Linked DNA regions of Homo sapiens. The protein of the gene in region 3 interacts with the protein of the main gene of each other region in a pairwise test. Each region holds a gene or a part of one and is shown on either strand. Other genes may lie near its edges.

Region 1 (3,500 bases), on a different chromosome or scaffold from region 3:
AAATGATATTGGCAGTTTATTTTAGTGCTTTGTGCTTATTTAGCTCTTTAACCCAAATCCTCTAATAATGATCTCCTTAGAGAGTACACATACTCTTGGAAATGATTCATTTTTTTTGAAGGTCATATTTATTTATGTGGTTTCTTTTTTTTTTTTTTTTGAAGGGCATATTTAATAGCTGCTGCAAACATATGGAATAGTGCTTTAATCAGTGGTGAACAAGAAATTGCTGTTGTTGGTTATAAAAACAAGGGACATTAATGTTCTTGTTCTTGTACCATAGTAATGAGAAAAAAAAATAGTGGTTGAATGGTGTTTAATTTGTACAGTTTGTGTCAAAGTAGAATGGGCAGATATTTTGGTGGATAGGCTTTTGTCTTAGTTATAAAAATTAGGACATTTGGTATGATAAAGGCAGAGAATCTTAACAATTGGCACTGGCCCAGAAAATTCAGGGTGCAGTGACCATAGCGTGTTATGACTGCTACAGTAGGCATAGCCACCTCCTGAAGTGTTTTCAACTGCTTGATATACGGACTTTAGGCAGTTCTTGACTTGTACATGCTAATTCACTGCTTCCACAAACAGTTCATAGATATATGCTGCCAGATATTTAGTGTTGAAAACTTTTGCTTCTTCCAAATATTCATACAATATTCATGCTTTTACTATAATATATAGTAGATTGAACACTGAACCAAATGAGCTTGGGTTCAGGTACAGCTTGTGTAACAAAGCTTTTAGTGTTGGGCCTGTATCAAAGCAAGATTCTTCCCCCTTATTTGTAATTTCTATAGAGAGCATAGGCAAATTAATAAAATTTACTCAGTCTCAAAAGGGAAACCAAGTAAACAGAATGATGCTTTTGTGGAAAGTTACACTGTCCAAGTAATTGTTACAGGTGTTTTTAGTATCATTCTTTACATTTTCACACAAGTCCTAAATTGTTCATTCCTCTTTGCTACATGATACGAAATTTCACAACATACTGGTTTTTTTTTTCTTTTAACCAAATATTTGCAGTAATCCAATACAACATACTGGTTTAATACAAGAGCTTAGGTTAAATAAGTCTCATTATTACCTTATTTCCTTTCTCCAGTTCCCCAAAAACAAAAATAAGGGTATTACTCATGAATGGACTTGTTTTGATTCCTCTATCCGTGACTTAACAGTTTTTGCAGAATTGGATCTTTTGGTAGGAGGAGAAAATAGCTAATTTAGAGCATGGAACATTATTATATGGTGGGGGGGGGCATGGGTGGGAGTTTTTTGGTATAAGGGCTTTATGCACTTGGCACAAGAAGGGTATGGGAAGGTTGCCAAGGATCAGTCAAAAATGAGGAAATTTCTCTACTTTGTGTGCTTCATTCTGTAGTGATCATATACTCCAGATTCGTAGAGTTTTTCATACTATTCCATTTTCACAGTGAAACAGTTGAAGTGTGTCCTGGAATCTTTTTTTTTTTTTTTTTTTTTTTGAGACAGGTCTCAGTCTGTTGCCCAGACTGGAGTGCAGTGGCATGATCTTGGCTCACCACAACCTCTGCCTCAGCCTCCCAAGTAGCTGACATTACAGGCGTGCCCCACTACTGCCCAGCTAATGTTTGTATTTTTAGTAGAGACGGGGTTTCACCACATTGGCCAGGCTGGTCTTGAACTCCTGACCTCAAATGATCTACCCACCTCAGCCTTTCAGTGCTGGGATTACAGGCGTGAGCCACCATGCCTGGCCATGTCCTGGAATATTATTTGGGTTCTTTCAGTTGACTTCTCATACCTGGGAGCAGCACTATAATTTTTAGATGGACTGGGTTAGTTTCAGAGAATTGAGATGACAGCGTCTGTGGCCTCCTGTGACATGCACCCAAGTAAAGCTAAAATTTTTATGATTTAGCCATGCACATGATTGCATTAAGTCATGTTTCGTGATTGTTTAGGGATCCACCATTTAGGATATTGTTTGTGAGACTACTTTTGCAGTCTCGTCATCTCTACACCACTAACTCTCTTCTAAGCATGTCAGTACTTTGAGCCTGTTTACACTCTAGTGTTTATTTCTCCATGTTTTTCTCCATGCTCGTAAAATCATAGATCCATACATATGTGTATATATTTTATTATTTTATAGAAATGGTCTATGTTTAACTTAATATTTTGTGCCAAAGAATTGACACTTGAATAAGGTCAGTATTTTCAGTTATCTTTTCTACTAGAAATGGTCTAAGCAATTTTTCTCTTGGGAAAGAGATGATTACTTCATTTGTTTAGCAAAGTGTGGCAGGCACTAATCAAAGTGCTGGAGGGATATTCAGCTCTGCCTTGAGGGAGCTTACCCACCTAGTCACTGTATGAGGAAAGTCATAAAGTTTTAACTAACATTTGTAATACTGACTTATCGTTTAAGGAAAAGGCTCAGGGATAGTGACTTTCCAAGGACACGCAGTTAATGGCTGATACAGACAGCATTCTGAATTCTGGATCATACTTTTATTCTTACGATTATATCACATAATTTTAATTGTGACGCCAAGTAGAACTATAATGAATACCTGTATGATAAGAAGCAAAATTTATAAACATTTAGAATTTTGAATTCAGGAATTTTAATTTACCTTACAGTTTATAGTACTTATGACCCTAAAGAGATAAAGCGTTTTGAAAGTTGATAGGAAATTATATAACTAGATATTCCTATAGTTGAAGCAAATTTTCCCCTTAGGGTCTTACCTTTATCTCTAGTTAGATTTAATTAACTTCATTGACCTAAACTGTTTGATTTTAATGTTTGCCAAGACTTAAAATTTACCTTTTTATTAATGGTAGATAGGGTGATATGCCTAGCATAAAATATAACTTGGATATTTTAAGTTCAATCGGGGGAGACTGTTGCTTTTCTATAGAGATAAAGCAAACATTTAATTCCTATAAGAGAAAGTTTCTTTTCTTAAGAAAATAATTGCTCTTTTTAATTTTAATTTTAAGAAATTCTCAATTCATGTTCTTAGCTTATATTTGAAACATATAACATGATGAATGTTATTTTTAAAATGAAACCCTGCTGATCTTCAGTCAGATGTGTTTGATTTTTTTCTTTTTTAATAATAGCAGTGGGTTGCACCACCACTGTTCACTCCATTTCTTGATTACTCACAAATTAATATATTTGATTATCGCTTTTTAAAAACTTGATAATTGTTTTCCTTGGTTTGGGAGTTTTTAAAAAAGTCAATAAAGTTTAATATTAATGTTTTTTATCCAATTACAGGAGTCAGAAATACCATCAGAGGAGGGGTACTGTGACTTTAATAGTAGGCCAAATGAGAACTCTTATTGCTATCAACTTCTGCGACAACTAAATGAACAGAGAAAGAAAGGTATTCTTTGTGATGTCAGCATTGTGGTAAGCGGAAAAATCTTCAAAGCTCATAAGAACATCCTGGTTGCAGGCAGCCGTTTCTTTAAGACTTTATATTGCTTTTCAAACAAAGAAAGCCCTA
Region 2 (3,500 bases), on a different chromosome or scaffold from region 3:
AATAACTTTTGTTTTCCTGTTCATTCCTACTTGTATTATTTCCTCCTCCTGCTTCGGGCTTGTTTTTCCCTTCGTTTCTTGAAGTAGGAATTTAGAGAAGCGATTTGAGATCTTTCTCCTTTCCTGATACAGGCATTGAGTGCTGTCCGTTTCCCTCTAAGCACTGCCTTGGGTGCGTCTGGCAAATTTCATTATGCTGTATTCTTGTTTCCATTCTGTTCTCTTTTTTATTTCCTTCGAGGCATCCCATTTGACTCGTGGATTACTTAGAAGTGTGCTGTTTAATTTCCAGGCACTTACAGTTTTCCTGTTGTCTTTCTCTGACTGGTTTCTGGTTTTGATGTCCACTGGTGTGGCCTCCACCTCTTCACGCCACCCCACAGATGAACAGCATTCACATAACTTCCCAGTATCTCGAAGTAGCATCGTTTCCATTTCCTGCGTGTCTTCTCATTTTACTGCATTATTTCAGCTTTCCTTGTTTGAGCCAGGATTCAGGGCTTCCTTCATTCCATCTCTAGCTTCCTCCCCTCGAGTTTCCCAGTTCATGGAGTTTCTCTTGGACCCTCAGCAGCAGGGGGTCTTGTTCTTGACAGGAATCCCTCACACTTCCCCCTTGGCCTCCGAGCCCCACCACATCCTGCGGTTGGTGGTGTGTGGAGAAAGTGGTGTGTGGAGAGAGTTGGTGGTGTGCGCTGTCTCTGCTCTCCAAGCCCTTTGTCAGCCCCCACCCCTCCCTCACTCCGTGCCTCTTGTCCGTGCCCGCTGGGACACCATGGGGCTCGGCTCAGGGGATGGTGGGACCAGCGCTTAGTAAGACTAGTCAGCCCTAGGCACCGAGTGAGCACTGCTCACGTGGCAGAGCTGGAATGGGGGCCGGGCACACAATCCCTGGCCCACGTGTTCCACGGACATGCTGCAGAGGTCCCCGGCCCTCCAGGGCAGGCCCTCTCTGCTTCCAGAGGGGCAGGTGAGCCCCAGGCCAGGCCAGCGAGGGTCTGGACTAGAGTGCAGTGGCCACAATGGACGCCGCGAGTGTCTTCATTAAGAGTGAGTGTCTCAGTCTCCCCCAGGGCGCCCGCCAGCCACAGGGCCGCTATGTGCGCAGACTAGACAGGTGGCAGCTCGGGCCGGCCAGGCAGAGGGAGAGGAAGCCAGAGCCTGCGCGCAGGCAGCCTCAGAAGTATTTCCAGCCACAGCCAACGTGTCTTACTGGCAATTTGCTTTTTAAAAAATTGCAGTTTAATTTTAAGTGAGCAGCCCGTAATTACAGTGATTTACGAGGTACCTGGGGACTGTGTGATATTTGAACATGGCAGAGGGCTGAGCAGCGATGGCAGAGATGGATGGGCCCGGCGCCACTCATTCAGCAGGTCCTGCTAATGCCGGAGCGTTAGACCGAGGTGGAGCCTCCCAATGTGGCTGGGTACGCTGGGGGAAACGGAGTCAGAGGTGGGCTGCACAGCAGGTCGACTTGTTCACCGGGGGCTGGTGTTTTGCAAACGCTGGGTCTGCCTTCGTGTGGGGTTTGAGCTGGGAGAGTAGCACTGGTTACTCCTGCCTGTCTCCGTCCACCCCCACCCCCACCTGGAGGGCAGCGCGGTATATTAGGGCATCATTCTTCCAGAGCCGCCTGAGGCCGGCAGAGAGGAGGTGCTGTAGGAGCCGTGAGTGGGTTGCCCGGCCTACCATTGGGAGCAGCTGTCTTGCTGACGCTGGCGGGGTGCACCTGTTTCAAATAAAGAATGATCAGAGCTCACGCCTGTAATCCTCACGTCGTGGGCAGCTGAGGCAGGAGGATCACGTCAGGCCAGGAGTTTGAGACCAGCCAGGCCAGGAGTTTGAGACCAGCCTGGGCAAAATAGCTAAAGTCTATCTATCTCTCAAAAAAATTTAAAAATTAGCCAGGTGTGCTGGCACATGCCTGTCATTCCAACTGCTCAGGAGGCTGAGGTGGATCACTTGAGTCCGGGAGCTCGAGGCTGAGTGACCCGTTATCATGCCACTGCACTCCAGCCTGGGTGACAGAGTGAGACTCGTCTCTAAAAAAAAATATTTTTAGAAATGAACGGCCAGGCTCCCAAAGCCTGCCAGCCTCTGAGGGCCGGGGAAGGCGGGTGCCTGGAAAACAGCTATTCTCTGGTCCAGCCTGGCCAGAGTCTGCACCACAGTGCGTCAGGCCCAGCCAGGTTGCCAGCCCTGGGTTGGGAGGAGGGCGAAGGGCCGGCTGAGGAGACTTCTTCCCACACTGCCTCCCCACCCCTGCCCGGCAGCTGCAGGAGAATCAGCCCCTCTGACATTTAGGGGGAGAAATTCAGAATCAAGAGCAGAAGGCAGAAGTGAAAGGATTTTCTCAGCGAAAGGTCAGAGTGGTTTCTCTTGTTTTTGTTTAAAAATGGTTTGTGTTGAACTATGACAAGGCCAAATGTACTAAGGCAGCAGAAACAGGGGGAGGGCAGGGGGAGGGCACGGGGACGGCTCCTGAGAAACAGGAGGTGCAGGAACAGGTCAGGTCGCAGGGCCTCTGGGGCAGCACGTGCTCCAAAGGTGGTGAGGGGAGGGGCGACACCATCAGGGCGGGGCCCAGCCCAGGCATGCTCCGGTGGACAGGGGAGCTGCCAGGACCAAGCTGGATGGAGCCAGGCCGCCCTGTGGCTCCTGGGGAGGGTTCCCAGAGGGCTGCCGGGCGGAGGGAGCGCTTTCCAAAACGGTTTCCTGAGCTCCGATGCACACACATGCAGCTCACCCTCACGTCTAGCGCTCCATTAGTCTACCGTTCCGTTCCTCCCGGCACATTCAGTGCGCAGCCGCGACCAGTCTAACCGTGGCACATTTCCACTGGCCCTGAGCCCTGACGTGCCCCTCCAGGACATCCCCTGGGCACGGAGTTGTGTCGACAGGTCTCTGTGACTGGCTGGGCGTGTTTTCGGGGTTTGCCCGCGTGGCAGCGTGTATCAGAGTTCGGCTGTACGAAGCGGTGTTGACGGGTAAACCCGGTTTTGTGTCTCCCTCCGGCGGTTGAGGGCTGGTTCCGCGTTCCATCTGTTGGTGATGGGATCGTGTTGCCGTGGACACCCGTGCCGAGGTCTGTGCGTGGACTGCGCTCAGACCCCCTGGCTGCGCGCCCGGGCGGGTGCTGGGCCCATGGACTCTGCGTCCAGCTCTTTGAGGAGCTGCCGGCTGTTTGCAGTGGCCGCACCACACACGCTCCCGCCAGCGACGCGGAGGGTCTGATTCCCCTCGACCCAGCAGCTCATGGTGGTTGCTCTCAGTGGCCGTCGGCGCGAGGCGGCTCCGTGTCTCGCTCAGTTGCGGTTCACGTTTCCCCGGTGCCCAGCGTCCTGGCATGAGCTCATTGGCCGTGTGTGGCTCTTCTCTGGAGAAATGTTCAAGGGCCCCTTGTTTAATTGGCTCTTTCCTCTTCATGGTGGAGTTGTGGGAGTTCTGGGCATATTCTGGGTACAGGACTTTTCAGGGACGTGGTTTCAGAGGGAGCTTTG
Region 3 (3,500 bases):
AGCTTCCACATTGGAGGGGGCTGATGAGGAAATACAGCATAAGCTCAGGCAAGGAGAGAGGAGGAGCAGAGGAGCAGTGTATAAACTGAAGTGGTAAAGACTCAGAATGAGAGACAAGATGGCCAGAGTAGAGGGAAAAGAAGCATGCTAGATGTTGTGAGTGCCAGCACTGGGAATTACATCTGAGTTTAGGTATTTGGGGGCTCAGAAGTTCTCAGTTTACATCCTTTTGGGAATCATGGCGTTAGTCCATGAAGGAGGCTTGGACTGTTAGGCCATAGTATTTCCAGAACAACCCAATTGGTGGCTTAAAGCCGACAGTCCTGAAGTGTGCAGTATTTGAGCAGATAACTGCTCAAATTCTTTACTGCCAACAGCTTGAAGTAAAACAGGAGATTTTCCACCTGCTCCCTCACCCCTGTTGTTTCCAGATGCTCATACTAGCTGGTCTGCTCTGCTTGTTGCTGGATTGTGTTCCTTTTTTTCTTTTCCCTGCAGAGAAACCTTCCATTTTGTTTTGGCTTTGCAGGGTTTGGAGATAGCCCAAGGAGAAAAGGACCTGAAGCAACAGCTGGCCCAGGCTCTGCAGGAGGTAACTTTGCCATAGTACTAAGATTATAGTGGGCTGTGGAGTGGGGAGCAAACAGGCATCACATGACCACTGGCTGCCTCTGCTGCTTAGCCCATACCTCTGTGGCATCCCCAGTCTGTAAACAGAGCAGGTGGCAGCTGCTCACACCATCAGATCAGAGATTTGGAGCCTTACAAACATGCCAGACCTCAGCATGAAAACTTACATCTTTGTCTGAGCAGAAGTTGCTCTGGTGAAGATGGAATGGAGCTTTAGCAGTTAAGAGGCTCTCTGGGGAAGTGGCTCCACTTCTAGAAAGGTGAGGGCAGCAGAGGGAAAATGTGAGGTATGACTTGGCCACCAGGGCCCGTGAAGGCCTCTGTTACCGCAATGTTCCTGAGCTGTAGCCAACCAGAAACAATTGGGGAATGTTCCAGTTAAGCATTTTAGGCCAGGTTGAGAATGTGCAGTTTAACAATCAACAACACATATCAATTTATTGAAAAGGTAAAGCTCAACAGGACTAAAATTCTCCTAAAAGATTGCCTGTAATTTATTTAATTTAACCTGACTACTCTCATTTGATTATTTTTTTGTGTGCTCTTTTGCATCTTTAAAACCTACTATGTCTTCTACCTTTTATGTATTATGATTAGTAGTTTAGTGCCATTTAGTCAGGATGGTTCAAATCTCATTGGAAAGAGTGAGCAAATCACATAGGAATTTGTTCAGGGGAATTTATCCTTTTATCGTAAACCTACTTCCCAACCTTAACAGTGCTAACAGTCATACAGTATTGTAAGCATGACAGGGTGCCTGCCTTGATCTCCTTGAGGGTTGCACAAACAGCTTTGGAAAGAATTAGATGAAAATTAATTCAATCTTTTTAGAATTTTATTTTTTGAGCTTGTTTATTTTCTAGGGTGGGAGAGTAGGCATGTTTCCCATTTGGAACATTATTAAGTTAATATTCAGACATTGTTTTGAAATTGAAAAAGAATGTGGTTCTGCTAGTTGGAAATCCCTGAGGGATCACTGAGTACCCTGCACCCTCTCCTGAGACAGGAAAACACTCTATCATTTTGCATGGGATACTTGGCCATGCATTTATTAGCTTAAAATGTGATACTTTTAGACCGGGCACGGTGGCTCACGCCTGTAATCCCGGCACTTTGGGAGGCCCAGGCAGGCGGATCACCAGAGGTAGGGAGTTCAAGACCAGCCTGACCAACATGGAGAAACCCTGTCTCTACTAAAAATACAAAATTAGCCGGGCGTGGTGGCGCATGCCTGTAATCCCAGCTATTCAGGAGGCTGAGGCAGGAGAATCGCTTGAACCCGGGATGTGGAGGTTGTAGTGAGCTGAGATCGTGCCATTGCTCTCCAGCCTGGGCAACAAGACTCCGTCTCAAAAAAAAGTGATACTTTTAGGTCATGGTTCTATACCATCATGCCTGGGGGACATGCCACTCTCATGCAGTGGTGGTTTTTTGTTCCACCATGCTGATACTTTTGAAAGCTGTTCTTTACCAGACCATTATAAAAACTGTTTTTATAATGGTCTTTTATAACTGATTTCCTGTTTAAATCACATAATACCTTCCTCTCCAATCTCCAAGAAACTACCACATCTTTTTAAACCGAGTGATTCATAAGTTCTCAGGGAATTTGACTATAGTTAGAAATGGGTCCAGACCTTCACTGCCCTAAGCAGTCTGCCAGTCTTTGCTTTGAGTGGAAAAGAAAATAAAAAGATGTGTTTATATACAGCTCAAAAAACTTCTCTGAATGCTTTTCATACCTGTTATTTTCTTATGAACACTGAGGGAGGAGGGGGCACCTATTTTCCCATTTCCTTTTATTTTTATTTTGAGACAGTGTCTCGTTCTGTCACCCAGGCTGGAGTGCAGTGGTGCAATCTCAGCTCACTGCAGCCTCCGCCTCCTGGGCTCAAGTGATCCTCCCACTTCAGCCTCCTGAGTAGCTGGAACCATAGGCGCGCGCCACAATGCCCGACAATTTTTTTGTATTTTTGGTAGAGATGAGGTTTCACCATGTTGCCGAGGCTGGTCTCAAACTCCTGAGCTCAAGCCATCCACCCGGCTCAGCCTCCCAAAGTGCTGGGATTACAGGTATTATGAGCTACCACGCCCGGCCATATTTTCCCATTTTATAGATGAGAAAGTTAAAATACACATATCTAATTAGTGTGTCAAGTTGAAGACCCAGGCCTTTTGACATAACTGCTTTTTTTTGTCAGGAGATCACACATTTTAAAATTTGGTTCTTGAATAATATCTTTTCAAAAATACTTACCTTTACTCCACCTTCTTTTAAAAAGAATTTGAGGTGAGATTCTAAAGTATAAGCTATACTTAAGCATGAGAGAACTCATAAATTATGTTTCATATATGTGGAACCTCTTGACATTCAGCATAGGCATTTAGTCACAATGAATGAGCTGTTAGCTCCTGGGTGTGCCTTCTTCCAGAAAACACTGGCAGGGTTCAGGCAGCATTGTCTGAGCATGTAATATGTGATTTGTAGAACAAATAGGTTAAAAATCTTTTTTATTTCAATAAAAATGACTATCTAATTCTGCTGATTCCCATTTCCTCCTGATTATTTCATAAAAGCTGCTTCCAGTTCTGAATAGCTTTTAATTACTTACTAGTTCTTAAATACTGTTCCCAGAATCACTTGGGTGGCTTTAAAAAAAAAGAAAAAAAGAAAAGCACATTTCTGGGCTCCAAGCCAAACCTATAGAAGCAGACTCTGGGACACAGTGAAAGTTCTTCAGTTGACTTGGATGGCCACCAATGTTGGGTTAGTTTTAGAGGCCCTAGTCCATTTGGTGGCCGCCTTCCCTAACTGCCCTCTCCCCTGAAAAAAGCAGCAGGTAGGTAAGATAGCCCAATGGAATAAAGGT
Region 4 (3,500 bases), on a different chromosome or scaffold from region 3:
TATGTTCAATTCTTTGCCTTCTACTTTTAAACTTAACTTCCTTGTAAAGCAACCTTTTTCGATCACCTGCTCCACCCTGACTCATTCCGATTACCTGCTCTGCCCTGACTCATTCTCCACCCTGACTCCTTCCGATTTCCTGCTCTGCCATAACCATTTTCCCCACCAAACCACTCACCCGGTCACTCTCTTTAAATTAGCCAATCGGAATTAGTTTAGCCTGTGCGGTCTAACCCTAGCCAATATGGGAATGACAGCGGCAGGGGCCACCTGTGTCAGGAATAAGAACTTCTTCCCCTCTTTTGTCCAGGTGTGTGCTCACCACTGCTCCATCTATGAGGGCGCACCCTTCTATAGAAGTAAATTGCCCTACTGAGAAGAAAAAAAAAAGAAAATTTTATATTCGATTGCTATTTCTTTTGTGGCACCGAAACTTTATTTATAACAATAGTGAAACTTCGTCTCTACTAAAAGTACAAAAATTAGCTGGGCATCATGGTGCACGCTTGTAATTCCAGCTACTCAGGAGGCTGAGGCAGGAGAATCACTTGAACCCGGGAGGTGGAGGTTGCAGTGAGCCAAGATCACGCCACTGCACTCCAGCCTGGGTGACAGAAAGACTCTGTCTCAAAAAAAAAAATAGTTATTAACAATTCTGGCCAGGCGCCGTGGCTCACGCCTGTAATCCCAGCACTTTGGGAGGCCGAGGCCGGTGGATCACTTGAGGTCAGGAGTTCGGGACCAGCCTGGTTAACATGGTAAAACCTCGTCTCTACTAAAAATACAAAATGTAGCAGGGCATGGTGGCACACGCCTGTAGTCCCAGCTATTCAGGAGGCTGAGGCACAAGAATCACTTGAACCCAGGAGGCGGAGGCTGCAGTAAGCTGAGATCATGCCACTCTACTCCAGTCTAGGCAACAGAGCAAGATCCTGCTCAAAAACAAACAAACAAACAAACAATTCTGAGGGCCGGGTACAGTGGCTCACTCCAGTAATCTCAGCAGTTTGGGAGGCTGAGGTGGGAGGATCACTTGAGGCTAGGAGTTTGAGACCAGCCTAGGCCACATAGTGAGACCCTGTCTACAAAAAATTTTAAAATTAGCCGGATATGGCTGCATGTACCTGTAGTCCTAGCTACTTGGGAGGCTGAGGTGGGAGGATTGCTTGAGCCTAAGAGTTCAAAGCTGCAATGAGCCATGATCATGCCACTGCACTCCAGCCTAGGCAACAGAGTGAGACCCTGTCTCTTGAAAAAACAAAAACAAAAATGCACACACACACAAACCAGTTGAAATTATTGCTCCTCTTGTTTTTGTGGTTGAGTCTTCACTATGTGATTCTTGTTCCATGAATTTAGAAGGTGAGAGTTGGTGGATAGCTTCTAGAAGTGGGTTTGAATAGGAAAGATAAAGGCTGTATCAGAGCTATGATGGTGCCACTGCACTCCAGCCTGGGTGGCCTGGGTGACAGAGCAATATTATCTCTTTAAAAAAAAACAACCCACCAGCTGGGTGTGGTGACTCATGCCTGTAATTCCAGCTTTGGGAGGCCAGAGGCAGGTGGATCACGAGGTCAGGAGTTCAAGACCAGCCTGGCCAAGACGGTGAAACCCCATCTCTACTAAAAATACAAAAAGTAGCCGGGCGTGGTGGCGGGCACCTGTAATCCCAGCTACTCGGGAGGCTGAGGTAGAGAATTGCTTGAACCTGGGAGGTGGAGGTTGCAGTGAGCCAAGATCATGCCACTGCACTCCAGCCTGGGCGAGAGAGTGAGACTCCATCTCAAAACACACGCACACACACACAGACACACACATACACACTAAAAAAAGCTATATCAGGATCAGTTTTCCTTCTTAACTTCTAAAGACAGATTTTTTTTTTTTTTGATAGGGTCTCACTCTATCACCCAGGCTGGAGTGCAGTGGTGCAATCATAGCTCACTGCAGCCTCAACCTCTCAGGCTCAAGCAGTCCTCCTGCCTCAGCCTCCCAAGTAGTTGGGACGACAGGCACGAACCACCATGCCCAGCTGATTTTTAAATTTTTTGTAGTCTCACTGTGTTGCCCAGGCTGGTATCAAAGCTCTGGGCTCAAGCAATCCTCCCACCTCGGCCTCCCGAAGTGCTGGGATTACAGGCATGAGCCACCATGGCTGGCTTTAAAGACAGATTTTTTTCTTGGAACAACACTCACCAGTCATGTGGCTTGGGGTAATTTAACGTCTATGGACTTTGGTCCACAGAAAATGGGAATTAAAGCAGGGTCTGATGACTTAAGTTTATGAAAATTAAATAAGAAATTGTTGAGGCACTTAAAAAGCAATACAACATGATACAAATACAGATTAAATTGTTCTGGTGTCCAGCAGTTAGTTTGGTAGAAATTGAGCAGTGTGTCAGAAGAGGAGACCCAGTGATTGAGCTGTTTGTCTTCTTATTGCAGCTATCTCTGAAGGGCACAAATCAGAAGGCACCATGCCTCCTAATAAAGAGGCCAGCGGTCTCAGTAGTTCACCAGCGGGGCTCATCTGCCTCCCTCCAATCTCTGAGGAGCTACAGCTTGTGTGGACGCAAGCAGCCCAGACCAGTGAGCTAGACAGCAATGAACACCTGCTCAAAACCTTCAGCTACTTTCCCTATCCCAGCCTAGCAGACATTGCCCTTCTCTGCCTACGTTATGGGTTGCAGATGGAGAAAGTCAAGACTTGGTTTATGGCCCAGCGCCTCCGCTGTGGTATTAGCTGGTCATCTGAAGAAATAGAAGAGACTCGAGCCCGAGTAGTCTACCGTCGGGACCAACTCCATTTCAAATCCCTTCTCTCTTTTACTCATCATGCGGGACGGCCCCCAGAGGAGGTGCCTCCTCCTCCAGTGCCAGCTCCAGAGCAAGTTGGTATTGGAATAGGTCCTCCAACTCTTAGCAAGCCTACCCAGACGAAAGGATTGAAGGTAGAGCCTGAGGAGCCCTCTCAGATGCCACCACTGCCACAGAGTCACCAGAAATTAAAGGAGTCCCTGATGACACCTGGCAGTGGAGCATTCCCCTACCAATCAGATTTTTGGCAACATCTTCAAAGCAGTGGCCTCTCAAAGGAGCAGGCAGGCAGGGGTCCCAACCAGTCACATGGCATAGGTACTGCTTCCTGGAACCACTCCACAACCGTCCCCCAGCCACAAGCTCGGGATAAACCCCCACCAATTGCATTAATTGCCAGTAGTTGTAAGGAGGAGTCAGCATCTAGTGTTACTCCCTCTTCTTCCTCTACCTCTTCTTCTTTCCAGGTACTGGCTAATGGAGCTACTGCCGCCTCTAAACCCCTCCAGCCACTAGGCTGTGTCCCACAGTCAGTGTCACCCAGTGAACAGGCATTACCCCCACATCTGGAACCAGCCTGGCCCCAAGGGCTACGGCATAACTCAGTACCAGGTAGAGTTGGCCCCACAGAGTACCTTTCCCCAGATATGCAACGCCAGCGAAAGACCAAGCGCAAAACCAAA
Region 5 (3,500 bases), on a different chromosome or scaffold from region 3:
GTCTCAAACTGCTGACCTCAACACTGCTGCCACAGAGTTGGGATTACAGGCATGAGCCACCGCACCTGGCCTGGTTAATACCCTTTTGAATGTCAGTTGAGATGATAGAAAAAGTTTGAAGGTTACGAATATTGGCCAGTGGTAAATTGTGTTCCATATTCTTATATAGAAGACACATTTGAAAGTATAAAATGGTAGCCTATGTTAATAAGACTGATTAAATAAATTACAGGTACACATCCATTCAGTGGGATAATATATAACCATTCAATGATAAATAATTGTTGATAGTCATGTGATACGATGTAGCAATATGGAAAATGCAATAAGAATAAGAAAAGCAGAATACAAATGTACTTTACTGGAACTGTTAGCTTTACTTTCATGTTACTGTATCAATACCTATGAATGCTACTCTTAAAATTATTGCTAATGCTACTTCTAGTTCCATGCAGTAAACTTTTCAGAGAATGAATTTCACATCTGGTTAACTTTATAGTACAGTGCTGTTAGCAACTCAAATTAATACTCATAAATGCTTAGATATCTATTTAAGTGAAACCTCGATTTCTACTCTCAGAAGGTACAGAGACTTTTTGACACATAACTTTCAGTTTCCTAAATACTTTTATATATGAATATAATCATTTCGCTCATTTAAAAATCAAGGAATTTCTAGTTTTTTCTGCTTGTTTACTTATCAGAACATACTTTGTTCTTTTATTTATAAGCCCTGTTTTTCACCACTCTGTTGTTGTTGTTCATAATAGTGTCTTTGCCTACCATAAGTGAATCTGTTTACAGAATCTTGAGTTTCTTTTTATTCGGAACTACAGCTAAGTCATTTGGAAGAAAATTATTACGTTCCTACTTTATGCCAGGCACAGTGCTAGGCATTGAGGATACAAATCCTCAATTGATGAACAAATTGCTGTTCTCAAGGACAAACCTTGGGAATGGTTTTTGTCAACACATCAGTCATGCCATTTCTCCTCAGAGAGAATGGTACCCAATTCCTTGGATAAAATGCTAATTATTGCTTAATGTGTCAGTCCAGAAGAATTATTCCTTATAGCTACTTCCTCTGTTTTCCAAAAGTCATGACAAGTAAGAGCTATTATTTTCCTTAATGACTTTTCCTAGTTTATATAGATCATTGTATATATATTATGGTAGTCAGATGATTTATTTTGAATATGGGTCTTTTTTTATTAAACCACTCAGCAAAGATTTATTAAATGCGTGTTGAGCACTGAACTAGTCACTGGGACCACAAAGATGATACAGTCTCTTTTCTCATAGAATTACAACCTTCATAAGGATAGCAGAAAGAAAAATGTTACAGATTCAAGTTCAGCTGAGTCTTTACATAATACATGATGTTCTGTTGATTATTTTTATTTTTTTGATGCCACTATTAACAGCAACCAGTAAACATTATTTCCCCTCAAGCAGACTGGCTTCTAAACCTAACCACTTAAGTTTCTTCTTCTCCCTCATTACCTCACAGTCTTCATTTTGAATATTAAGTTTGGGGATATCTGAAGTAATTGAAATTGAGGGTTTTAAGATCTAAGTGAAAAGCTTTACTTGGGTCAAAAGGCAGATTTCCAACAAATTTCTTTTCTTATTCCATCTAGTATCTGTACATGTTTTGAAATTAAGGGTATATACAAATGTGAATTATGAGGGGTTTTTTTCTTTGTTGTGTTTTTTTTTTTTTTTTTTTACTTTTTCCTTTGAGACATTCTAAAATATTGTTAGGTGATCTAAATAATTTATTTTCTTTTTTCCAGCGGGTCCATATGGAATATTTGCTGGTAGGGATGCCTCCAGAGGACTGGCCACATTTTGCCTAGATAAAGATGCACTTAGAGATGAATATGATGATCTCTCAGATTTGAATGCAGTACAAATGGAGAGTGTTCGAGAATGGGAAATGCAGTTTAAAGGTATTTTTATTTTGTTGGATTCTTTGGAAAATTAAATATTTGTTCAAAGAAAATATATACTATTTTACATGCTTTAAGAGCCTAAGGATGTCATCCGTTTTCATTGCCATCATTATTTGATAATATTTTTAAAGATAGCTAAAGCTGGGTGAAGTGGCACATGCCTGTGGTCCTAGCTGCTGATGGGAATCCCTTGAGCTCAGGAGTTCAAGGACTAACCTGGGCAACATAGTGAGACTTGTCCAAAAAAAGAAATTGCAAAAAATAGCTAAATAAAAATATGATTGTTACATGTGATAATTATTTTGAAAATCAATATTTAAAAAAATGACTTGTTACAAATTCTAAGCCTCAAAAATTGTGATACTTACAGTCAGCTTCTTCATTAAGGTTTAGTTTTTTAAAAATACAGGCTTATATTTAAAACTGAGTTGATTACTGATTTCAATACTATAATTTATTCCAAAATGATTTTACAGATCTTAACACTCGAAATGTAGATAAAAAATATCTTTCCCCTTTCTTATGCCCTCATAACATCAGTTTTTACCACTTGTGTGATGCTGTCCCAGCTGTTTATCTGACCCCTGGGTCCCTTGGAACAGCTGTTCTGGTTTAGCTGGGTACTGAGATGGGTCCTGGACTTACTCATTTTTAAAAAAGATCTCCAAGTGATTCTGATGCAGTATCCAACTAAGAATCACTGGTACAGAACACCCTCTTGCAAAGAATTCCCAAGCCTTATAAGTTCCCTAATCCTGTTTTCTTTTGTTCAGGCTTTACATGTGTATAAAGACCAGCCATGGTGAAGCAATTTTAGAATATTTAGATAATATTCTAATAATCATATTTTATATGATTCTAAAACAGACAAATGCCTTTTCTCTGTATAATGGAATAGTGAAACAAATTTGATCACCACTGATTTTCTTTTGATGTATCTTTCAGAAAAATATGATTATGTAGGCAGACTCCTAAAACCAGGAGAAGAACCATCAGAATATACAGATGAAGAAGATACCAAGGATCACAATAAACAGGATTGAACTTTGTAAACAACCAAAGTCAGGGGCCTTCAGAACTGCAATTCTTACTCCCTTTCACAGACTGTCCGGAGTCTTTGGGTTTGATTCACCTGCTGCGAAAAACATTCAACAAATTGTGTACAAGATAAATTAATCTCACTATGAAGATTTGAATAACTAGACATTATTTATGCTGCCAAACTCATTTGTTGCAGTTGTTTGTAATGTCTAGTGGGGCTTCATCATCCTGAAAAGAAGGAGACAGGGATTTTTTTAAAGAGCAAGAAAGTCACAATATTACTTCTTTCCTTCCTTTTTTCCTTCTTTCCTTTCTTCTTTCTCTTTCTTTCTTTTTAAAATATATTGAAGACAACCAGATATGTATTTGCTACTCAAGTGTACAGATCTCCTCAAGAAACATCAAGGGACTCCTGTGTCACATACTGTGTTTTTATTTTAACATGGGTGAGGGAGGCGACCTGATCAGGGGAGGTGGGGGTACACATCAATTTGAGTTGTTCAG
Region 6 (3,500 bases), on a different chromosome or scaffold from region 3:
TGGTCATTTAATGTGCGACCTTGGACTCTAACTCCCAGGAATTCCTTAAACATTAAAATAAGACACATATTCACATTAAAATAAGACACATATTCATTATAAAGAATAATAATTAAAAAAAAAACCAATGGTAATAAGATCTCAAGCAGCAATACTCATTGAGAACTGTTGACTGATAACCATAGTTAGCACAGTGGCTATGGCCCAAATAGTTTCAAGTGGGTATGGCTGCTAGAGGACTATCTTGAACATGTTCAAGACCGGGTTTCCAAACTAGAGAAATGTTCTAAGAGAAACACAGTTGCTGAAGTCCATAAAGAGACGTAGAAAGTACAAACTAGACATTCTGGTCATATTAAAAAGGGATATCATTTTTTTCTTCCTCATAAATATTTACAGAATATTTCTTAGTTTTATTTTGGTAAATGGACAAAGAAAATATTAACTTCAGGAAAGTTAGTCATGAAAATACACTAGTGTCTCCATAACTTTATAAACAGAAAAAACACATGTAAAAAAATATTAAAAATGAAACCAAAGACATCACTGTTATCAAAATCTTTAAGCTTGCAATCTAAAACAGTCTTCTATTTTTCTTAGTTATTATTTGCAATTTCTGACATCAAAACTGGTATTCCTCATTAGCATTTAAGGTATCTGCAAATAGAAACAGCTGATATTGTCTCTAAAATTTGCTCTGAGACATCTAAAGATTTATATTAGTATTGTATTATCAAATAATAACTAGTAAAATAAATCTGGAATTTTCTATCAAATGAAGTGAACTAGATAACAGCTCAGCTTGTTAACATGTTACTCGCATTATGCGTTTGCCTAGCACAATGAAAGAAATCGCAAACCATGTGTACATTTGAATTAATGGTTCATAATGAACACCATTTTCTTTGCAACTGCAGTAAAATTAAAAACACAACCAGTATCACTTCACAGATACAGAAGTTAAATGGAATCACTCCCAAATGCAATGAAAATTAAGTATGATTAAGAAAGCTGGTATATGCACAGCAAAGTTTATACTACAAATTATTGAGAAATACCAACCTTTGCATCTAAAATATTGAGAGTTGTTTCAATTTGTTGGATACGAAGTGAAAGGTCTGCCAGTTTCTGTAAAAGAAAAATTAGAGACATAAAGACTTTAATTAAAATAAACTGTTAACAATAACTAAGGGCAGATATGAAAATATTAAAAACCATTAAATATTTGTCATATTCTAATACAGTACTGTCTTATTTACATGAGTAGGAATGAGAACTCTTCTATTACGTGTATTATAATGCTTCTCAGTTTCTTTTTTTTTTGGGACGGAGTCTTGCTCTGTCGCCAGGCTGGAGCGCAGTGGTGCGATCTCGGCTCCCTGCAACCCCTGCCCCCTGGGTTCAAGTGATTCTCCTGCCTCAGCCTCCCGAGTGCTGGGACTACAGGCACGTGCCACCACGCCCAGCTAATTTTTGCATTTTTAGTAGAGATAGTGTTTCACCATGTTGGTCAGGATGGTCTTGATCTCTTGACCTCGTGATCTGCCTGCTTGGCCTCCCAAAGTGCTGTGATTACAGGCGTGAGCCACCGCACCCAGTCGCTTCTCAGTTATTTTATAAAATTATATTCACTTATAACAAAGTTGACATTTTCTGCAAACTCATTATCAGAGCAGTAAACAATTGTTGAGACCAGAATATAAACAAACCAGGACAGAGCCTTTTGTTTACTACTGTACCTTTAGTGCCCAGAATAGTACCCTGACACTTAATAGGAGCTTAATAATTATTTGTTGATGAATGAAGAAATTTTTTCATAGAAAATAAAAGAATAAAAATTATTCAAAGACACGCTGCAACAAGGTCTGCCTTTATAAATTACTTAAATGCATCAGCATATACAATTCGTCCCAGATTTAAACATCTGTAGTTTGAAAAATAAAGGGGAATGGAATTGGAAGATGAGTAATTCATTTTGGAAAGAGAAGAGAAAAAACTAGAGTATTAAAATCTACTATCAAAATGCAAGATAAACCAGATAGAAGAGCTTATCATGCTTGTTACTCTGTATAATTAAATTGTCAATGTACCTCTGTGTAAATATACACCTATACAAAGAAAGGTAGCATCATAAAATATGACCATTCAAGTAAAGAACATTTACTTGAAACCTCCTAATCTTAAACATTATATTCAGTCACATAATCCAAGAGCAGTTGCCCAGTTTACAAGCTGGCAGATACACAGCATCCTGATTGTATTCTGGGATATTATTAAGATCCTGACTATTAAGTAGAACTTTACCATCCTGTGAAATGGTCACTTTGCCCACAATTAGAGGGGGCAAAAAACTGAAAGTGGCCACAAAGCAGATAGTGCTTCTTTACAGATCACTTATTTTTAGTTTAGCATCTTGATATCGACAAAGACATAATCTACAAATAAAGTATTAGGATCTAGTTTTCATGGTATCAAAGCTAAGTTTACCCTTGACTTCTAGAATTCATTCACATAAGGCTTTTAGGTAAACACCAATACAGGTTTATAACATGTATTATGAATGAATCCCTCTCCAAATTATAAGTGTATTCCTTAAAATCATAGAAATTTAATTTTGGCAAATCTAATCAGTCTCAATTCACTAGAGAAAAAATTCCACAGCAAATTAATATGTAAAGTGAATGAGAATTTCCAACTTATTTAAAAATGGACATATTGGTTTGATTGAAGGAAACACAAAAGGAAACAAAAAAATGGAATTAAAAATTTTTCTGTTTTAATATACCTATATATTTACTTTTAAGCAATAATCATCAATACTGTAAATATCTGAGTATTTACCTTGCTACATATGGTACAGTGTATATGCAACATATCAATTGAAATCTTACACCAAATCTATAAAGTAGGAACTATTATGCCAATTTTAAAGATGAGAAAATTGAGTCTCATACAAGTAAAATATCCTGAACTCAAACCCTCCAACTCCAGAGGCAATACACTTCACGAGATTTTTTTGAGATAATTTTACACTGTTAAAACATAATGGTAAATTCTTGGGTATTGCACAGAATTTTTGTTATCCAAAGCTAACAAATGATCAATTCGTTTCTCACTAAGATGATTCTGTGCCAAGAGGAAAAGCCTTTTGCTCTTCTGATTCTGAGATGATCATTTACAAAGTGGTTCTGAACTACAGTACATGAACTAGGATGAGAGAAAAAATTCTACCTTTATTTTTATCTACTTCTAGCTTAAATTCAGCATTGTTTAAAAACATAGTTAAAAAAAAAATCACCATAGGCTGGGCACAATGGCTCATGCCTGTAATCCCAGCACTTTGGGAGGCCGAGGCAGGTGTATCATCTGAGGTCAGGATGGTCAACATGGTGAAACCCCAACTCTACTAAAAATACAAAAAAAATTAGCCAAGTGTGGTGGTGTGCGTCTGCAGTCCCAGCTACTCAGGAGGCTGAGGCAGGAGAATCGCTTGAACCTGG
Region 7 (3,343 bases), on a different chromosome or scaffold from region 3:
GGGAGGTCAAGGCTGTGGTGAGCCATGACTGTGCCATTGTACTGCAGCCTGGGTGAAAAAGCAAGACCCTGTATCAAAAATAGTAATAATAATAAAATAAAAATAAAGCTGGCACAGTGGCTCACGCCTGTAATCCCAGCACTTTGGGAGGCTGAGGTGGGTGGATCACGAGGTCAGGAGATCGAGACCATCCTGGCTAACACAGTGAAACGCTGTATCTACTAAAAATACAAAAAATTAGCCGGGTGTGGTGGCGGGCGCCTTTAGTCCCAGCTACTCGGGAGACTGAGGCAGGAGAATGGCGTGAACCCAGGAGGCAGAGCTTGCAGTGAGCTGAGATTGCGCCACTGCACTCTAGCCTGGGTGACAGAGAGAAACTCCATCTCAAATCAATAAATAGGCCCGGGCATGGTGGCTCACGCCTGTAATCCCAGCACTTTGGGAGGCCAGGGCGGGTGGATCATGAGGTCAGGAGACCGAGACCATCCTGGCCAACATGGTGAAACCCCATCTCTACTAAAAATACAAAAAATTAGCCGGGCATGGTGGTGGGCGCCTATAGTTCCAGCCACTCAGGAGGCTGAGGCAGGAGAATCACTTGAACCCAGGAGGCGGGGGTTGCAGTGAGCCGAGATTGTGCCACTGCACTCCAGCCTGGCGTCAGAGCGAGACTCCATCTCAAAAAAAAAAAAAAAAAAAGTACCACAACGACTGCTTGTATGGTAATGGATTATAAGAATTATTTTTCTTTTTCCCACTGCTTGATTTTTCCAAAATATGTGTAACTACATACTATAGAATCCTTTGAAGACAATTAATTTCCACTATGCAAAAGTGAGTATACAGCACAATGCCAGGCACATAGCAAAGGTTCAGTGTTAAAAAACAAAATAACAGCAAAAGACCTGTAACCTCTCATTAGTCTATATCTACAGAGACTCAAAACATTATGCAAGGGTGAAAGATAAGGTTGACTCGTTTCAAAATGAAATGATGTTTTAACCTGAAACTGCTCTACTACATTTCACATGACAAACTCAGCTGACCATTCCCATAAAGCACTCTGGCCATACTGAAAATCCTTGATTTTGTTTAAAGATACAGAACACCTTAATGATGGGTAACTTCGGGGAAAGCTACTCTGGTAGGAAGCCTACACAGCTAATAAAAGAATTTGTGCCATTCCACAATAGCAGTTAAGGTTCCTTAGAGCAATCTTAGTGCACTAAGGAACCTTACTGCTTCTTTGTTATGTAATGCAACAGTCTAAAGACATATTTATTTTTTGCTAAGATTTAGTGCAACAGAAACAGTTATGCAGACGGATTTTGCTGTTTTAAACTTTAGCATCTTTCCTCAGCATATAGATCAAAAGAAATATGTAGAACTTGGATATGTATGTCTTGTTAATGAAAACAACATGTGCAACAGAAAAGCCTTCTCAAAGTCTCAAGTGTGGGCAAACAACAGCAGGAGAGTCTAGAACACTGCAGGACACCAGAAAAACTCATTTCCAACAAAGAATAGTAAATAGTTTTCACAAATGAGACTTGTTCATGTGGTGATGGCTTTTAAAAGTCTGGTTCCATCAAAGCATAGCCATGGAAGAAGCTGTGTAATTTTTCATTACAGGAGAATTCTACTTGAAGCCATCTGATTCAGTTAAGAAATCTGGGGATGATTTGATTTAGGAAAACTGCTTTATGTTTATTAAATTACCTGTATGTTATTTATTTTAGAAACAGCGTCTTGCTTTATTGCTCAGACTGTAGGGCAGTGATGCAATCATAGCTCACTGCAGACTCCAACTCCTGGGCTCAAGTGATCCTCCTGCCTCAACCTCCCAAGCAGCTGGACTACAGGTGTGTGCCACCACACCTGGCTAATTTTTTGCAGAGACAGGTTCTCACTATGTTGCTCACACTCATCTTGAACTCCTGGCCTCAAGTGATCCTCCCACCTGGGCCTCCCACAGTGTTGGGATTACAGGACAAATTACCTGTACTTTTGCCCTCCTAAGATGCATTCAGGTTGACAATGAAAATACTTACATAAGTTTTCAGGAAATATTCTGTGCACAACAGCCAAGTTTTTTTGGAATTAGATGGATGAGTCACACTAGCCATACTCTGGAGCCTGGCAATGTGAGGTTTTGAAAAAGCATTCTTCAGTTTAGCTGATACCAAAAATGTTTGTGTTTTGTGCGGTTACTGGGAATTTGCCTGCAGCCACTAATCAGCTGAATCTTTAATCACCATTTTGCTCTTTATTGTTAGAATGTGGAGGTAAAATATCAAGTGTATGATACCCCTATCCTCTGACTTGAATATCACCATTATCCGTTTCCAAATAGCATTTCTAAAAGTAAGTTTTCTGTTTGTAAATATAATACATAATCATCATAGAAAATGCCAATACAGAAACCAAAAAATCAACACTTTAAATCCTACTAAAGATAGCCACTTAATTTAGTAAACATTCCAGATACATTTCTACACGCACCAAAAAAAAAAAAAAAATGTACAATTCTATATGAATATAGCTGACCATGGTATTTACAACCTGCTTTTTCTTCCTTTACTCATATGTCTCTAACTTTTTTTTTTATGGCAATGAAAACACTTTCCCTTCTATGGTTTCATTGTATTTCATCAATTAAATAAATATTGGCATATCTGTAGAATCTCCACCAATTTTAGGATCCTTCCAATTTTTTGCCACTACATTCAATGGAAATTACATTCCCACGCATGCATCTTTGTACAATTGTGTGATTGTGCAATCATCCAATTATCTCCTTATGAGAAACTTCTAGGATAAATTGTTTTGATGGGATTTCTAGGTCAAAGATTTGAAAATTTTTGTTACATCTTCTAATTTATGGTCATAAAAGTTGTACTAACTTTACCTTTCCACAAATACTCCATGAATAAATTTATTTTCTCACAGCCTTAGCCAAAATTGGGTGATCTTTCTTCGCTATTTTGTAATCTAAATTCAAACTGCATTTCATTGATAACTAGTGAGGCTGAACATCTGTTTTCTTCATTCTTCCTATGTCTATATTGAACTGCTCAAGTATTCCTTTTTGTCTGTCTTCCCATAATCCAAGTGGCACTTTAGTCTAACCTGAAGACTGTGGCCTCCTTTACAATTTGGTCAGTCATTACATTCCTCATCTTGGCAACTATTTTGCCCATCACATCACAAATACACAAAAGGCTGAAGAGCTGTTGTTCTCTGATTCCCCTCAGCTTCAAAATGCATCTTACCTGATGTACCCCTTGTGGAGATCTCACATGTCAGTCGCTTGAAATATTCTGGAAGATCGGCATAGTCATCT

The links.
Region 1: the proteins of RNF8 (region 3) and ZBTB10 interact in binary tests that used the Homo sapiens proteins (3 or more experiments, as listed by UniProt).
Region 2: the proteins of RNF8 (region 3) and MAD1L1 interact in binary tests that used the Homo sapiens proteins (3 or more experiments, as listed by UniProt).
Region 4: the proteins of RNF8 (region 3) and HOMEZ interact in binary tests that used the Homo sapiens proteins (3 or more experiments, as listed by UniProt).
Region 5: the proteins of RNF8 (region 3) and PGRMC2 interact in binary tests that used the Homo sapiens proteins (3 or more experiments, as listed by UniProt).
Region 6: the proteins of RNF8 (region 3) and WASHC3 interact in binary tests that used the Homo sapiens proteins (3 or more experiments, as listed by UniProt).
Region 7: the proteins of RNF8 (region 3) and FAM118B interact in binary tests that used the Homo sapiens proteins (3 or more experiments, as listed by UniProt).

Annotation. Positions count from the first base shown.
Region 1 is NC_000008.11:80,496,226-80,499,725, forward strand, and holds part of ZBTB10 (zinc finger and BTB domain-containing protein 10), read left to right. Parts: intron 1-3,268; coding exon 3,269-3,500. UniProt on the Homo sapiens protein: May be involved in transcriptional regulation.
Region 2 is NC_000007.14:1,816,946-1,820,445, reverse strand, and holds part of MAD1L1 (mitotic spindle assembly checkpoint protein MAD1), read left to right. Parts: intron 1-3,500. UniProt on the Homo sapiens protein: Component of the spindle-assembly checkpoint that prevents the onset of anaphase until all chromosomes are properly aligned at the metaphase plate.
Region 3 is NC_000006.12:37,370,983-37,374,482, forward strand, and holds part of RNF8 (E3 ubiquitin-protein ligase RNF8), read left to right. Parts: intron 1-529; coding exon 530-592; intron 593-3,500. UniProt on the Homo sapiens protein: E3 ubiquitin-protein ligase that plays a key role in DNA damage signaling via 2 distinct roles: by mediating the 'Lys-63'-linked ubiquitination of histones H2A and H2AX and promoting the recruitment of DNA repair proteins at double-strand breaks (DSBs) sites, and by catalyzing 'Lys-48'-linked ubiquitination to remove target proteins from DNA damage sites.
Region 4 is NC_000014.9:23,276,133-23,279,632, reverse strand, and holds part of HOMEZ (homeobox and leucine zipper protein Homez), read left to right. Parts: intron 1-2,445; coding exon 2,446-3,500. UniProt on the Homo sapiens protein: May function as a transcriptional regulator.
Region 5 is NC_000004.12:128,270,814-128,274,313, reverse strand, and holds part of PGRMC2 (membrane-associated progesterone receptor component 2), read left to right. Parts: intron 1-1,796; coding exon 1,797-1,952; intron 1,953-2,900; coding exon 2,901-2,998; 3' UTR 2,999-3,500. UniProt on the Homo sapiens protein: Required for the maintenance of uterine histoarchitecture and normal female reproductive lifespan. May serve as a universal non-classical progesterone receptor in the uterus.
Region 6 is NC_000012.12:102,044,992-102,048,491, forward strand, and holds part of WASHC3 (WASH complex subunit 3), read right to left. Parts: intron 1,129-3,500; coding exon 1,063-1,128; intron 1-1,062. UniProt on the Homo sapiens protein: Acts as a component of the WASH core complex that functions as a nucleation-promoting factor (NPF) at the surface of endosomes, where it recruits and activates the Arp2/3 complex to induce actin polymerization, playing a key role in the fission of tubules that serve as transport intermediates during endosome sorting.
Region 7 is NC_000011.10:126,256,782-126,260,124, reverse strand, and holds part of FAM118B (protein FAM118B), read right to left. Parts: coding exon 3,273-3,343; coding exon of another isoform or gene 3,255-3,272; intron 1-3,254. UniProt on the Homo sapiens protein: May play a role in Cajal bodies formation.